2 separate regions of the Homo sapiens genome follow, and region 2 is linked to region 1. The links come from fine-mapping of genetic effects on gene expression. Tissue or cell type: whole blood. Region 1 holds a variant in brackets; the other region holds the start of a gene. All regions are shown on one strand. Distances are between the middles of the regions.

What was found. PIP is the estimated chance that this variant, and not a neighbour inherited with it, causes the effect.
Region 2: it holds the start of ZNF770, and the variant in region 1 is fine-mapped to the expression of ZNF770 in whole blood (INTERVAL, PIP above 0.99).

The regions. Positions count from the first base shown.
Region 1 is chr15:35,016,063-35,024,167 of GRCh38, forward strand. It overlaps LOC105370763 (a long non-coding RNA gene), which reads right to left and starts at 728. Exons shown (of 3, transcript XR_932098.3): 1 at 1-728. RefSeq lists an enhancer at 4,068-4,760. The variant G/A (reference allele first, on the strand shown) is at 4,392.
Region 2 is chr15:34,985,076-34,993,180 of GRCh38, forward strand. ZNF770 (zinc finger protein 770) reads right to left here and starts at 3,212. Exons shown (of 3, transcript NM_014106.4): 1 at 3,041-3,212; 2 at 2,482-2,598. It overlaps LOC105370764 (a long non-coding RNA gene), which reads left to right and starts at 3,283. Exons shown (of 5, transcript NR_188212.1): 1 at 3,283-3,409; 2 at 4,610-4,735. RefSeq lists enhancers at 75-727, 1,711-1,770, 1,851-1,900, 3,307-3,396.

The DNA.
Region 1 (8,105 bases):
TGTCAGAAATAGAAGGAATCCTCAAAATCCTCTAATAAAGATGGAATGTGATCACAGAGACAAGAAACTTGTCCAAGGTCAGACTGAAGTTAGTAACAGAGCTCAGCCCCAAAACTTGGAACTTGGGCTTCTAGGTCCTCAGGCCTGAGTCTTTCCTTAAAGTGGTGCTGTATTCCTTTGAAGTATAGCTTTAAGCAACATGAAAGAAGGACGGTCATAGGGTAGTTCTTATTCTGTAAGTATATCTTTTCACCTATGTGATCAAGCACAGCTACAAATACCAACAATTTCTACTGAAAATCAAAGACCAATCAGCCTGCGTGTGTGTGTGTGAGAGAGAGACAGACAGACAGAGAGAGAGAGAGAGAGAGAGAGAGAGAGAGAGAGACAGAGGGAGAGAGAGAGACTGGAAATCAAGTAAAGAAAGGGAAGCACTAAAATGTAAATGCTGGGGCTGATGTCTTGATGAATATGCCAAGCACTGGAGAAACTTTATTTTGTTTTATGAATCAAACCAGGAAGGGATATTATCAGTATAAGGTGTTTCAGTTGGGGAAGTTGGTGCAATGAGAAGAGGCAGAAATGAAGATGGGAGTTACAGGGGTTCCTCACTCCCACTTACCCCAACTTTGGGACCACATACATACTCCACTCATATTCTCCCACATTGTTGGTAATGCTTGCTTTTATTATTTATTTATTTATTTGAGACAGAGTTTCACTCTTGTTGCCCAGGCTGGAGTGCAGTGGTGCAGTCTCAGCTCACTGCAACCTCTGCCTCCCAGGTTCAAGCGATTTTCCTGCCTCAGCCTCCCAGGTAGCTGAGATTACAGGTACATGCCACTATGCCTGCCTTATTTTTGTAGTGTTTTTTTTTTTTTTTTTTAGTAGAGATGGGGTTTCACCATGTTGGTCAGGCTAGTCTCAAATGCCTGACCTCAGGTGACCCACCTGCCTCTGCCTCCCAAAGTGTTGGGATTACAGGCATGAGCCACTGCACCCAGCCAATGCTTACTTTTAAAATAAAGGCCAGGGCCAGGTGCGGTGGCTCATGACTGTAATCCCAGCACTTTGGGAGGCTGAGGTGGGCGGATCACCTGAGATCAGGAGTTTGAGACCAGACTGGCCAACATGGTGAAACCCCATCTCTACTAAAAATACAAAAATTAGCTGCGGATGGTGGTGCAGCCTGTAATCCCAGCTATGTGGGAGGCTGAGACAGGAGAATTGCTTGAACCCAGGAGGCGGAGGTTGCAGTGAATCGAGATCATGCCACTGCACTCCTGCCTGGGTGACAGAGCGAGACTCCATCTCAAAAAAATGAATAAATAAATAAATAAATAAATAAAATAAAGGCCAGGAAATAAAATGTATTGAAGTGGCAAATATGCTCTAAGCATTGATTAATAGTGTTACAACAAATTAATATTTGTGGTCTATGAAAAAGGGAATTAGACTGTAGTATAGAATTTGTATTCCAGTTCCAGCCCTGCAGCAAGCCCTTTAACCTCTTTAAGTCAGTTTTCCCAAAGATAAAGTGTAAACAAGAAACTTAGCTCTTAATATTTATGGCAGAAAAAATGAAAAAAAAAAAACCTCAAAAGTCCAACAACAGGGAAATAAATTATAGAATATTTATATGCTAGAGTATTGTTAACAATAAAAATTTAGTTTTGAAAATTGTTAGCAATATACTAAAGATTCACAATATAATATTGTGAAAAAACATGATTTAGAAACAGTCTATTGAATTATGCAAATTTTACTAAATATTCTTTCAAGCATATAAAATACTTGAAAGAAATAAATCAAAATGTTAATTTTATTATTTCATGGTGGTGATTAGAGATGGTTTAACTTTTCTTCTTTACATAGTATATTTGTTATTTTCTGAATTGTGTTTAATGAACATATACCAATTTTACCATCAGAAAAGATGTTGTTTTTAATAAAACAATGTGCTTTAGCTTAGTTTATAAGGATATTTAGAGGAAAATGGAAACAAGTTTGAATACTCTCGATTCTGACAAAAATGTGCTAAGCAATCCCAGTACTTATGTTAAAGGGAATTTTTTTTTTTAATTTTTAATTTTTTTTTTTTTTGAGATGGAGTCTCACTCTGTCGCCCAGGCTAGAGTGCAGGGGCATGATCTCGGCTCACTGCAACCTCTGCCTCCCAGGTTCAAGTGATTCTCCTGCCTCAGGCTCCCAAGTAGCTGGGATTACAGGCATGCACCACCATGCCCAGCTAATTTTTGTATTTTTAGTAGAGACGGGGTTTCACCACGTTGTCCAGGCTGGTCATGAACTCCTGAGCTCAGGCAATCCACCCGCCTCAGCCTACCAAAATGCTGGGATTACAGGCGTGAGCCACTGCACCCAGCGTTTAAAGGGAATTCTGATGTTTGTTTCCATAGACAGTTTTTTTCTTAGTAAGGAATGGATGTAGGCACGGTGCGGTAGCTCACGCCTGTAATCCCAGCTCTTTGGAAAGCAGAGGTGGGCGGATCCCGAGGTCAGGAGATGGAGACCATCCTGGTTAACACGGTGAAACCCCGTCTCTACTAAAAGTACAAAAAAATTAGCCGGGCGTGGTGGTCGGCGCCTGTAGTCCCAGCTACTCGGGAGGCTGAGGCAGGAGAATGGAATGAACCTGGGAGGCGGAGCTTGCAGTGAGCCGAGATCGCGCCACTGCACTCCAGCCTGGGCGACAGAGCGAGACTCCGTCTCAAAATAAAAAATAAAAAAATAAATAAATAAAAGAATGGATGTGCTTGGAAGTGATCCCCCCAATCATTAGGGGAACACAGTGTATGTGCCACCACTACCTTAGAACTATTTCTGTGTGCTGAGCCTGGTGTTCAAGAAAAAGTCAAATTGACCCTCATCAGCCTACAGCAACTTTATCCATTCACTAGGAGGGATGACCAGCTCCTTGGGAAGATTTTTGTGCCTGAGGTGGGGCCTCAGACAGGGGTGGGAAATGTTTAAACAGACTCCTTTTCCCATGGCTTCAATTTCAGTCCCTCTTCTCAGCAGGGAGTGACCACTGTCTCTGTCATTCCCCACAGAAGCTGCTTATAAGATGAAAAAAGGTTAAAATACAAGTTCTTGGGAAATAAAAGCAGAGGGCAAGTAGGGCTGCAGGGGGAGCTAGTACCAGAATTGAGCTTGGCATCCTGGGAAGGTGAGGTCAGGTAAGATAGGGACTACTACTATTATAGACTACTGGGTCAAGTACTAGCTATTAATGATCTCATTTAACCCTTTAATAATATGAAGTTAGCCGTGTTATATCTTCCTCCCCGCCCCCGCCCCGCCCCCCCCCCCCCCCCCCGCTCCTCCTCCAACTGGAGTAACTGAAGCTCAGGTAAAACAAAACAAAATGAAACAAAAAACCATTTGCCAGGTTATTTCTTCCTCCCCTTCCTCCTCCTCCCCCTCCCTCCTCCTCCTCCCCCTCCCTCCTCCTCCTCCTTCTTCTCCTCCTCCTCCTTCTCCTCCTCCTTCTTCTCCTGCTCCTCCTCCTGCTCCTCCTCCTGCTCCTCCTCCTCCTCCTCCAACTGGAGTAACTGAAGCTCAGGCAAAACAAAACAAAATGAAACAAAAAACCACTTGCCAAGATCACACAGGTAAATGCTGGAGCCAGAGTTTGAATTGAGGTTTTAGTGGCTCTGAAATGTGTACTTTTTACAACAGAGTCTGGTGAGCCCCAGAGTTGTTTAATACCAGATTCACCCAGAAAGAAATTTGAAAATACAAATTCCAAAATTCCATCCCTAGAAATTCTGATTTTAATTATGTCAGGAATGGGACCAAGGAATCTGTAAGGCGTTAAGGAGGTTCGAGGACTGCAGCTCTCTTCCACATTGCTGCTCCCACATCAGCAATTAGTCAAGATGTGCTCTTGTGCATGGGCCTGAAGACTCAGCCCAGTGAGTGAGCTATGTGTGAACTTCACACTCTTGGCCCCTGCCAGTTCCTCAGCCTCATATCTCCCTCCCACCAAGTCAGAATTTGGGAAAGCCAGCCAGTCAGGAAGAGTGCTAAAACAAAAAATATAAATACAATGAGATAGAAATAATGAAGCTTCGACAAGGTGAGGTGGCTCACACCTGTAATCCCAACACTTTGGGAAGCCGAAGTGGGCAGATCACGAGGTCAGGGGTTCAAGACCAGCCTGGCCAACATAGTGAAACCCCATCTCTACTAAAAATACAAAAAAATTAGCCAGGGGTGGTAGCGGGTGCCTGTAATCTCAGCTACTTGGGAGGTTAAGGCAAGGAGAATCACTTGAACCTGGGAGGCAGAGGTTGCAGTGAGCCGAGATTGCGCCACTGCACTCCAGCCCGGGTGACAGTGTGAGACTCCGTCTCAGAAAAAAAAAAAAA[G/A]AAGAAGAAGCTTCTTAGGGTGGTGACTGGGAGGAGGGGACAAGCACCCCATGGAGTTGCTTCAGTCACAATCAATGGTCATTTAACTGCGTCTAAGGAGGTCAGGTCTTAGGTGCAGGCCTTTTGTTTGGCTGATTTGCTTTGCAGATTTGGGTCCAAGGCATGCAAATGTCCCTGTTTAGGATCACAAAGGAGTCACTGGGGAGCCACCAGCATTCTCTCCACTACATTTCACATCTTCTCCAGACTTAATAAACCTTTCCTTTAAATAAATATTTTTAAGATATGTCAAAAAGAGCCGGGCGCGGTGGCTCACACCTGTAATCCCAGCACTTTGGGAGGCTGAGGCGGGTGGATCACAAGGTCAGGAGATCGAGACCATCCTGGCTAATACGGTGAAACCCCGTCTCTACTAAAAAAATACAAAAAATTAGCCAGGCGTGGTGGCGGGTGCCTGTAGTCCCAGCTACTCGGGAGGCTGAGGCAGGAGAATGGCTTGAACCTGGGAGGCGGGAGGCAGAGCTTGCAGTGAGCGGAGATCGTGCCTCTGCTCTCCAGCCTGGGTGTTAGAGCGAGACTCCATCTCAAAAAAAAAAAAAAAAGATATGTCAAAAAGATTAGTTTGAAGAGGCACAAAATTACTGACCTGTCTCATGCATCCCTGCATTTTAGTTCTGCTCTGTCTCATCCCATCCCCGCATTACCTCTGTTCTCCTCCAGGCCTTTGCACACCATTCCCACCACCTGGAACACTCTTCTGCCTGCTCGCTCTCTCTACACCTATCTATCTCATTCTTATTCATCTTTTAGGTCTAGGCTTAAACATTGCTTTCTCTGGGAGCCTTCCTCAACATAGAGGTTAGAGACTCTTAGTGTATGTTCTGACACCTATCACCACACTCATCAGATTTCATCGTCATTACATATTTAATTATCTGTTTCCCCCTAAACTGTGAGCTCTCTGAAGACAGGACTTTTGTTGTTTTGTCCATCACTGTTTCTTCATAGCTAGTCCAACGTTCATGAAATCTGTACTGAGTGATTGAATGAGCCGAGAGTCTGAGGCTATGTACATAGTGAGCCCCTTACTTAGAAGGATTAAAAGTTGGGACTGGAACTGTGATCAGTTCATAGGAACTCCAGTGTATAGATTCTCTAACTTTACCAAAGCTCAACCTTATCCAGATTATGGTGCCAAGAATCCTGGGATGCAAATCAGAAATATAAGATCCAGCGAAGTTGTGTAACCTTTTGCCAGTTGTTTAACCTCTTCAACCACTCCCAGCTTTTCTGAGTAGCAAACTGTAGGAAAGTACAGTGCTTTGAAACAATACAAATATGAGTCTCCTTTTGTGGAGACATAGAAGAGATGTGTCATCTTTAAAGGGACCACTTTCTGGTTTCCATTTTTCCCACCTCAAGCCATACCTCTGGGAGGGTAAGCACAGTCAGTACAGTGGAGGCTCTCATCAACGCCACTCACCACTGCCATTATCTGGCTGATTAATACAGTTTGTGTTATTGCAAAGGAAAGGGGAGGAGGAGAGAGAACAACGTGGCAGCATTTGTGGTATAAGAATGTGGTAGATCTGTCAAAAACACTTTCCAGATTCCTCATTCTCTAGGGGACAATTTTTCTGCTGGTATTTTGAGATCTCAAAATTAAATACCTGTGCCAGAACTGCCATCTCTAAGGTGACAATACTAGAAATCTCCCTCGGCTTCTTAACATGAGAGGTTTTAAATATTAGCTGCCTTAATGAAGTACCATATGGATAACATTTTAGGACAGGCAGTCAAATTGTGACAAAAAAAAAAAAACAAAAAATGATTAACTGCAAAAGCAAGAAAAAGAATTTGAAGTAGGGTTGCCAGATTTAGCAAGTAAAAATATTTGAGAAATAATTGCACTAAAAAAGTATTAATTGTTGGCCAGGCACGGTGGCTCACGCCTGTAATCTCAGCACTTTGGGAGGCCAAGGCAGGCGGATCACCTGAGGCCAGGAGTTCAACACCAGCCTGGCCAACATGGTGAAACCCCATCTCTACTAAAAATACAAAATTAGCCGGATGTGGTGGCAGGCCCCTGTAATCCCAGCTACTTGGGAGGCTGAGGCAGGAGAATCGCTTGAACCGTGTGTGGCTGGTATTTCTTTAATGTTATCAAATACCTAATGAGGGTTCAAGTTTCTGATTGTCTAAAAAAATTTTAAAAGTTTTTGCTTTTTAAAAAAATCACAAACCAAATAAAGTCCCTTTGTTTGTAATTTGTTCATAAGTTTCTCCTTCCTTCCTCTCTCTCTCTTTTCCCTTGCAAGCTATATGTTGAAGAAATTCGGTTGTCCAGTTGAGTCTCTTACATTCTGGATTTTTCTGATTGTATCCTCTGCGTATTTGTATCTCTTATAAACTGTTAGCTGGATTTAGAGATTTAGTCTGATTCAGTTTAAAATTTTTTGCAAGAATACCTTCAGGTGGTGGTGTGTACTTCCATCAGGAGGCATATAATATCTAGTGGTCTCTCTTTTTGTGATATTAGCAGCCACTGATGATCATTGCCTAGAGTATGTAATTAGAAATTTGCAAAGTGGTCTTATTCTTTTTTTTTTTTTTTGACACGGAGTCTCTCTCTGTCGCCCAGGCTGGAATGCAGTGGCATGATCTCGGCTCACTGCAACCTCTGCCTCCTGGGTTCAAATGATTCTCCTGCCTCAGCCTCCTGAGTAGCTGGGACTACAGGTGCATGTCACCACTGCTAGCCAATTTTTTATAGTTTTAGTAGAGACGGGGTTTCACTGTGTTAGCCAGTATGGTCTTGATCTCCTGACCTCATGATCCACCCACCTCGGCCTCCAAAAGTGCTGGGATTACAGGTGTGAGCCAGCCACCGCACCCGGCCAGTGGTGTTATTCTTATATCGTTGTTTCTCTATTTATTCTTTTTCCTTCGTGTGTGTGTGTGTGTGTGTTTAGTAGAGACAGGGTTTTGCTATGTTGCCAGGCTGGTCTTGAACTCCTGGCCTCAACTGAGCCGCCCGCCTTGGCCTCCAAAGTGCTGGGATTACAGGCATGAGCCACCGTGCCCTGCCATTATTGATTCTTTTTTCATTACAAATTTATTTTTTAATTATTATTTTCCTTTTTGGTATTGCTCCTTGTGGAGCAGGGATAACCCATAGGCAGTGTGCCCAGAGTAGTCTCTATTTATTCTTGAGAGAACCTTCCCTCATCAACTATTTTGTTACCCTGAGGTGTATTTCATGTGGGAAAGTATCATAGCTCAGTTTCTAGGAGAACAGACTCTGAGATGAAAATTGCATGTCACAGGTTTAAAGCAGGAAGCCCTAGGGAACAACACCTGTAAGAAAGTGAGGAAAGTGCTGGACAGAGTGAGAAAGAAGTTGAACTGTGATGGAATTTTAAAGAACCCAGACAATCCTACAGTGAGCTTTAAAGCCGGCATAGCTCCTCAAAGTTAAGGCTGTGCCTTTATACCCTCCACCCCGCCCATGCATTGACTAATCACTGTGGGCTGACCTTGGGTTGAGGATGTAATCTTGAGTAAGACAGCTCCCCTTACCCAATAACAATTCCTGGGAGTGGCTCAGCTGAGGAACTTTAGCAGTGGAGGCTCCTGGGGACTGAACGAGCATCTCAGTTGTGAAGGGGCCTATCTGAGTGGTGCACTTAAGTATCAAATACAAAAGGACAAGTT
Region 2 (8,105 bases), 31 kb before region 1:
CTGAGCCAAGATTGCACCACTGCACTCCAGCTTGGGCAACAGAGCGAGAGACTGTCTCAAAAAAAAAAAAAAAAAAAAGTTTAGCAAGCACTTTCATAACTATCTTATACTCTATCTTCTATCAGAGAAGCCAATTTTCTTTTCATTATTACTTTACTATGGCACTGCCCTTAAATAAAGGAGTCAGAGATTTTTTCAAAAAAAAATTAAAAGCTGTGCTAGCTCTTTCAATATAATGTATCTTCTAGATCAGAGAGTTCTAAGTCTGGAGTTCTTTTGTCAGCTGATCTGGCAAACATCCAACAAACACGGTGTTACTATTTTCTCCTAGAAGATACCTTCAACCCCAAATCACAAACATACCCACTGTGGTTCTTTAGCAATGTGAATCAGAAACAGAAAAAAAAAATTACTGAACAAATATCTTTAGTTACTTTATCACAGTGTTTTTCAAACTGCAGGATATTACTCATTAATGGATTGTGAATTCAACTTAGCAGATCATGATCAGCACTTTGTTATTTAAAATAAGAGCGGAGGCTGGCATAGTGGCTCATGCCTGTAATCCCAGCACTTTGTGAGGCCGAGGCAGGGGATCACCTGAGGTCAGGAGTTCGAGGCTAGCCTGGCCAACATGGTGAAACCCTGTCTCTACTAAAAATACAAAAATTAGCTGAGTGTGGTGGTACATGCCTGTAATTTCAGCTACTTGGGAGGCTGAGTCAGGAGAATTGCTTGAACCCAGGAGACGGAGGTTGCAGTGAGCCGCCAAGATTGCACCACCACACTCCAGCCTGGGAGACAGAGCAAGACTCTCAAAAAAAATTTAAAAATAAATACATAAATAAAAATAGGGGATAAATAATAGTAGAAAGTATCAGACTGCATACTATATAGCAAGGATAAATATTGTTTTGTGAAACTTCTGTAGGAAGAAGTAAAAAAGTTTATGAAAGCTGTTCTTAACATGCCTCTTCATACTAGACAAAGGAACCTACAACAAATCGACCACTTTATTCAAAGTGGCCAAGTGATCTATTAAGGTGAGAAAGATAGGGGCCCATAGTATGAGACAAGATTACTAAAGAAAGCAAGTGTCTGGTTTTCTTCACTTGACCCATATTATTCCAAAATATTTATTTTAAATAAAAATCATCTAATTACAGGCCAAATGGAAAATGCCACATAAATCCACGCAAAATAAAACAATCTGACTGTAAGCCAGTATAGTAGTAAAATATATCATATAACCCAGATATCAATGTTAACCAACAATCAACTCTTGGTGCTATGAATATGCATTTTCAGTAGCTTGAATTAGAGAAATTAGAGGTGAACAAGCTCCAAAGTCTCTAAACATGCCGATACAGAGCAACAGTCATGATAATTAAAATTAAGTCATGAATCCAGTGAACTGCAAAGAACTTGGCAGCAATTAGGTGCCAAGGTAGTCAATCAGGACAATGAGTCAAACCAAAAGTAATCAAGCCTTTATTCACTTACTGTGACAGTGCAAGCAAGTGGTAAAAAGAGGCACTGGCTCCCCAGTGGTCTACTAAATACAAGGACACTGGGTGAGGGTCAGTTGATGCAGTGCATATGAGGTAATCCTCTCACTGAAAGGAGCCCCTAACAAAAATCTCCTGCCTCTTATGGAACTTCAGAATAGGAAAGGGAGGGGAAGGTCTAGGAGTGAAAGAAGCTGGGTCAAAAATGGAGAAAAGTGTCTTAGCCACGGTCCTTCCTAGGAGGGCCTCCAAATGGAGGTACCCAGGCTAGGAAAGAAGTTATGGGATTTGCATATCTAGCAGGAGGGGCAGGGCAAGTCCTTGACTGCAACCCCCTCCAGAAAACTGCAATGCACCGGCCCATATCGAGTATGGTGTGGGAGGACAGCTTGGCCCTTGAGGCCAGTCAGGCAAAGCCTGGTAATTGTCCAATGTCAGGACTGAATGATCACACAGGATTTTGGTATAAAGCCAGATTCAATTCCTTTTGTATGTTTCTTCTTCCCTTTAATAAATGCTTTCGTGGAACACGCCTAAAAGAAAAAAATCACACACCACAACTACCTCTGATTAAAACAGGGATTGGCTACCTACAGCTCCTGTACCAAAAAGGAGCTACGGTTAATCATCCATTGTTAGCACTAAGATTGGATAACTGTTGTCACTTGCCTCCCACCACGTGGAAAAGCACTTACTGGGAGCCCTAGATTGTTAGAACCATTAGTGGCAAGTGGTGATCCTATCTCCTGTTTATGAGAGTCAGGTTAGGGATCCTCACCTCACGCACTCATGGAGCTCCAAATCCCATTTCAACCGATTTTTGTTGATAACATAAAAATAAAAAAGACTGTAATTTTTCTTATCTTAAACTGAAATAAAAGAATAGTAGATCTGCTCAGTGGTTCAATCCAGAATTTATCCTGACAAGAACAAGATACTCTACGTGAAGACTGTAAAAACTGTAAAAACTGACCTCAATAATATCCAATGTTGCCTCAAGGCTGAAAGCCTGTTGATTTTCTTGTCTTGACTAGTACCATTAAAACGATGTGAGGATTTCACGAAAGTAAGCGAACAAGAAATGAAAGACCTAAGAGAAACACACACAACTTTCAGTTGGGGAATAATCTCCGGCGGCTGCTTCTGCCCCACTCGCCCCGGGCCCATTCTCTTGGCCTTGAACCCTCACCTCTCCCTCCCAGTGGACTACACTGGACAAAGGACACTGACACACAGTCCTCGTTCTAAAGGCCCACAACCAATAATAAGCACGTAATGGTCGAGCCGAGTCCAGAAACCACAAAATCCCACGCCAGGAAAGGAAGGGTAAGGGTAAAAACTGCTTTGGCTGCAGCCAGGATGAAAACGCCACATGTGATACAACCCACAGCAACAACAAAAAAAAATCCCTCTACGCCTTCCTCTCAAATTTCTGCTCCGCGTGAGACGCACTCAATAGGTGGGGAAGTGAGAAAGCAAAAGGAGCTCAGGAACTGAGGTTGTGGAGCCCCCGTTCTTGGGTCCCCAGGCACCTTGGCGGTATTGAGGCAGGTCCGACCCTCCCTGGGGGTCGCTCCACTTCTCAGTCGGGTTTCTGAAGTCCTCCTCACGCATCTGGAGCTGGCGAGGGCCCGGGAGGCACGCACCTCAGGCCCAGGTGCCGCGAAGGCAGCGCGCGCACGTCCGCAGGGCCGGCGCGGCAACGGGCTGAGCGCGCAGGCGCGGCGCTCTGGCGCGCCCAGGGACACAGTCCGGCTGGAAACAAGCTCCCCCCAATTTCAGGGCCGTTGTCGCCTCCGGGCGGTCCGCGGGTCCCGAGCGGACTGGGACTCTGGAGACGTGCCCCCAACCCCACCGCCATTCACCCTGTCATTGCAGGGGAGAGAACAGAATAAAGACGGGTACATTTTCCATCTCACCTCTGAACCTCGGTTAGGAAAACGCTGTAGCCCTGACTAGTGGGCTCAAGGGCCGACTGGAAAAGGGCGAGTCAGCGTTCAAAGCCGATTCGGGGCAGCCCTCTCTAACGCAGAGGGCCGAGGATAAGAAGACGACAATGTGTTAGGGGCCCTCCGGGCTAGGACTGTCCTCACCACTTTGTACATTGCCAAAGTAAATATAACGTAGAGGTCAAGCGCAGGCGCTTTGTGGGCAGACATGACTGAGCTCCACTCGCGACTCCTCTAATGGCGTGCCAGCTGCGGACCTCATTAGCCCCGCCTCAATCATTCAGTATGTTTTGGTTGTCTACAGTGTACGAAGCCCTGTTCTCACAATTAGATAAAATGAGTGTGAAGTGCTCAACATAATTCCTAGTGTAGTAGGCCTTCAAAGAACTATTATCATTATTAATTACTCATATAGAATACAACTTTATGAAATGATAGGATCCCATTTTAAGATGAGGAAAATGAGGCTATCAGAGACGTTAAGGAACTTAATGTCACACAGTTAATAAACGATAGAGGTGCGATTTGAACACAGGTTGTCTAATACCAGACCTGCATTTATAACTGCTGCTTCCCAAGTTATAGATATTTCAGCATTTTATGTAGTCACAATTGAAGACCAAATATTTAGTTACAGACTAAGTTGGCATGTTATTACTGAATAAGATGCTAAGGTATCTACTAAAGATTTTAAGTGCAAAAGGCATTAGAGAAGAATTTACTGTGGATTTTTTGCAGGTTCTGATTGTAATTGTATCACCTTGAGAAAGGAGGAAATGAAAGCAGATTATCAGGCATACTTTTTTAACTCTAAGCAACTTTTTGCATTACTTTCTAAGGACCATCAGCAACAAAAATCAATGGTTTCTAATGTTGATATATTTTCCTCTACCAAAAAAATTAAAGCAGCTGAGCCAACAAAAATTCTCTGTTTTGGATGTGTTAGCATGAGGAAATGGCGAATAGGAAATGAGCTTTTGCTTCTCATGTAGGAACCCTGAAGGAGTCAGATTTGGGAGGGGTTGAAGTCTGCTTCCAACAGAAGCAGGGGTGGAGAAGGGAAAGGAAAGACTTCTGGTGTCCTAAATGCTAGTCCCAAAGTGGGGATGCTGTTTGTCCGGATAACCCTTGTAAATCTGCTCCATTCTGCAGCTACTCCTGGGAAACTTAACTCAGCCAAATAATGCAAACAATTGCATCCATCATCAGCCACATCAGCCTTAGGAGATACATCCATATCATGAGAAAACACTACCTGAAATTGGGGACCACTGGAGGGTGAGATTCGTTCTTTATCCATTACCTGCAAAACAAATTGGCCTTTGCATGGAGAGTCTGAATATATATTGAGTGTGAAAGCAGTTAGGACTTGAATAGGCTATTCTCCAAGGCCACATGCCCCATGTCATAACCTCCCCCATTTACCGTGAGAGCTATCTCAGGAGCCTTCTGGAAAAAAAAGAGAAATTAACATGAATAAGAGTAATCAAGGAAGATTTCATTGAATATGTGAAATTTGAACTAGCAGTAGTGGGTAGACTATGAATAAATAAAAAATGTGGGGGCAGGACAGAACATGGTAGGGCAGAGGTGGCAGGGTGAAGAAAAGATAGTATGAGAATGAAAAATAAAGGGGGTGCATGACATACGTTTGAATTAGTATCTTAATGCTGCAGCTTACTAGTTGTGTCCTTAGAAGTTATTTAACCTAGGCTGGGCGCGGTGGCTCACACCTGTAATCCCAGCACTTAGGGAGGCCGAGGCGGGTAGATCATGGGTCAGGAGTTCGAGACCAGCCTGGCCAACATTGTGAAACCCTGTCTCTACTAAAAATACAAAAATTAGCCGGGCGTGGTGGCACGTGCCTGTAGTCCCAGCTACTCAGGAGGCTGAGGTGGGAGGATTGCTCTAGCCCAGGAGTTAAAGGCTGTAGTGAGCCGTGTTCATGCCACTGCACTCCAGCCTGGATGACAGAGCAAGACTCTGTCTTAAATAAATAATAATAAAAATAGAAAAGATGTGCCACTGCACTCTAGCCTGGGCGACAGAGCGAGACTCTGTTTCAAAAAAAGAAAAAGAAGAAAAGACATATCAGGTACCAAGCTCTAAATATTCACTTCCAATTATATAAAGATGAAGCAGTTAGGCCCTGAACCTTAAATTAGTTTCTAGCCCAGAGGGGAAAATAACATACAAACAAGTATTAATACAATATGATAAGAGCAGATATATATAGGAGGAAAGAACATCTAAATCTGCTTGGAGGTTCCAGGTACAGATGGTCCCTGAGCTGCAGCTTCAATCAGCCATCTATCCATCCATCCGTTCTGCATATATTAAGCACTCGCTGTGTATCAAGTCCTGTTCTAGGCAAGGGGGACAGAGTAGCAGACAAAAAGTCAAAAATCCATGTCTTCATAGATTTTATATTCTACTGAAGGAGACAGACAACAGATCAAATAAGTTAAAATATATAATATGTTAAATATTAGTAAGAACTGAGGAGAAAAGCACAGAAGAGGGCTGTGAAGATTTGAGGGTGTGGGTGGGGATGCTGGCATTTTAGTAGATGGCCAGAGATGGCCTTAATGAGAAGTTCTGTGATTTTTTTTTTTTTTAATACAGAGTCTTGCTCTGTCACTCAGGCTGCAGTGCATTGGCACGATCTCAGCTCACTGCAACCTCTGCCTCCCAGGTTCAAGTGATGCTCCTGCCTCAGCCTCCCAAGTAGCTGGGACTGTAGGTGCCTGCCACCATGCCCGGCTAATTTTCGCATTTTTAGTATTTCGCATTTTTAGCACCATGTTGGCCAGGCTGGTCTTGAACTCCTGATCTCAGGTGATTCATCTGCCTCGGCCTCCCAAAGTGCTGGGATTACAGGCATGAGCCACTGCACTCAGCCTAGTTCTGTGATTGTTGAGTTGAAACCTGGTGGAAATGAGAGACTGCCTTTCCCATGGGAGACAGTAGGAGGCAGGGATAAAAATGAGTAGTAACTTGCTTAGTGGGCAAGAGAGTGTGTTTTTGGAGGAGGGTGGGGAAAGGAAAGATAGGCAGAGAATATTCCAACCACAACAGACACACAGTGAGAAAAGGCATGGCAAACAGGAAATACAAGTAGTTGCTGGAGTGTGAAGTACAGGTTGGGAAAGTGGGGAGTGGCAGGAGAGTCACTCACGCAGGAAATAATTTGGAGCACCTACTGCTCACCAGGTTCTTAACAAGAAGCTCAGAAAGTTGTTATATGCAAATGTTTTCTTTTTAAAAATTTTCTTCTTCTTTTTCTATCTTTTATCCAAATAATTGTACTTGATTCTCTAGTTTCTCTTCAGATCCTATAAATCTTTCATCTTTTACCAAAATAATTGTACTTCAAAGGAGTCCATAATTTTAGGATATTTTGTATGTTTTTTGGAATATTTTAAAAACAGAGTTTTTTTTTAACTTTTTTTTGAGATGGAGTTCTGCTCTTGTTGCCCAACCTGGAGTGCAATGGCACGATCTCGGCTTACTACACCCTCCGGCTCCTAGGTTCAAGCGATTCTCCTGCCTCAGCCTCCCGAGTAACTGGGATTATAGGCACGCGCCTCCACGCCTGGCTAATTTTTTTTTTTTTTTTTTTTTTTTTTTTTTTTTTTTTTTGTAGAAACGGAGTTTCACCATGTTAGCCAGGCTGGTCTCAAACTCCTGACCTCAGGTGATCCGCCCACCTTGGCCTCCCAAAGTGCTGGGATTACAGGCATGAGCCACCATACCCGGCTAAAAAACAGACACTTTTTGAAATTGACTTTTAATGGTGTTAAAGCTGCCTTCTGCCCTAAGTGACAGGCTGGCAAGGAGCTCACATCTCCTGGTTCCATCCCGTCTCTCTTATCTTTCCTTTCTCCTCTTCCCATTCCCTCTGTGGAACAACATACAAAGTCATCTGCTTGCCTTCTGCAGATAGTCCACCCAAATCTGTACCCCTCAGGTGTTAGTTTCTACCCCCAAGCAACTGTCAAAGAATTTTTTCAACAAAGAAATCCTTCTTTCTTTCTTTTTTTTTTTGGGGGGAGGGGAGATGGAGTTTTGCTCTTGTTGCCCAGGCTGGAATGCAATGGCGTGATCTTGACTCACCGCAACCTCCGCCTCCCGGGTTCAAGTGATTCTCCTCCCTCAGCCTCCCGATTAGCTGGGATTACAGGCATGCGCCACCGTGCCCAGCTAATTTTGTATTTTTAATAGAGACGGGGTTTCACCATGTTGGTCAGGCTGGTCTCGAATTCCGGACCTGAGGTTATCTGCCCACCTTGGCCTCCCAAAGTAGAAATCCTTATTTCTTAAGATGATTTTTGGTGAATAGAACCCTCTCCTTCCCATCATATACTGTACTTCCTTGAGAATAATACTTGCAACTTCTTGTACATTGTGCTACACAACTTCTGAGAGCATTGTGGTGTAGGAGTGGGGCAGCTGGGAGCAGGGAGAGGGTGGAGGATAAGTTGAGATCAGAAGATGAAGCACAATACGGCTGTACTGTATTTTACTTAGGACAGTTGGACTGTCTACAGCTCACAGGCTAGCCCCAGTCTCCTAAAGGATTGCTGGAAATCTCTAAAGCTCCATTAGTGATAATACCTATTGGATTTCTGGGTCTGGTTAGGTATTG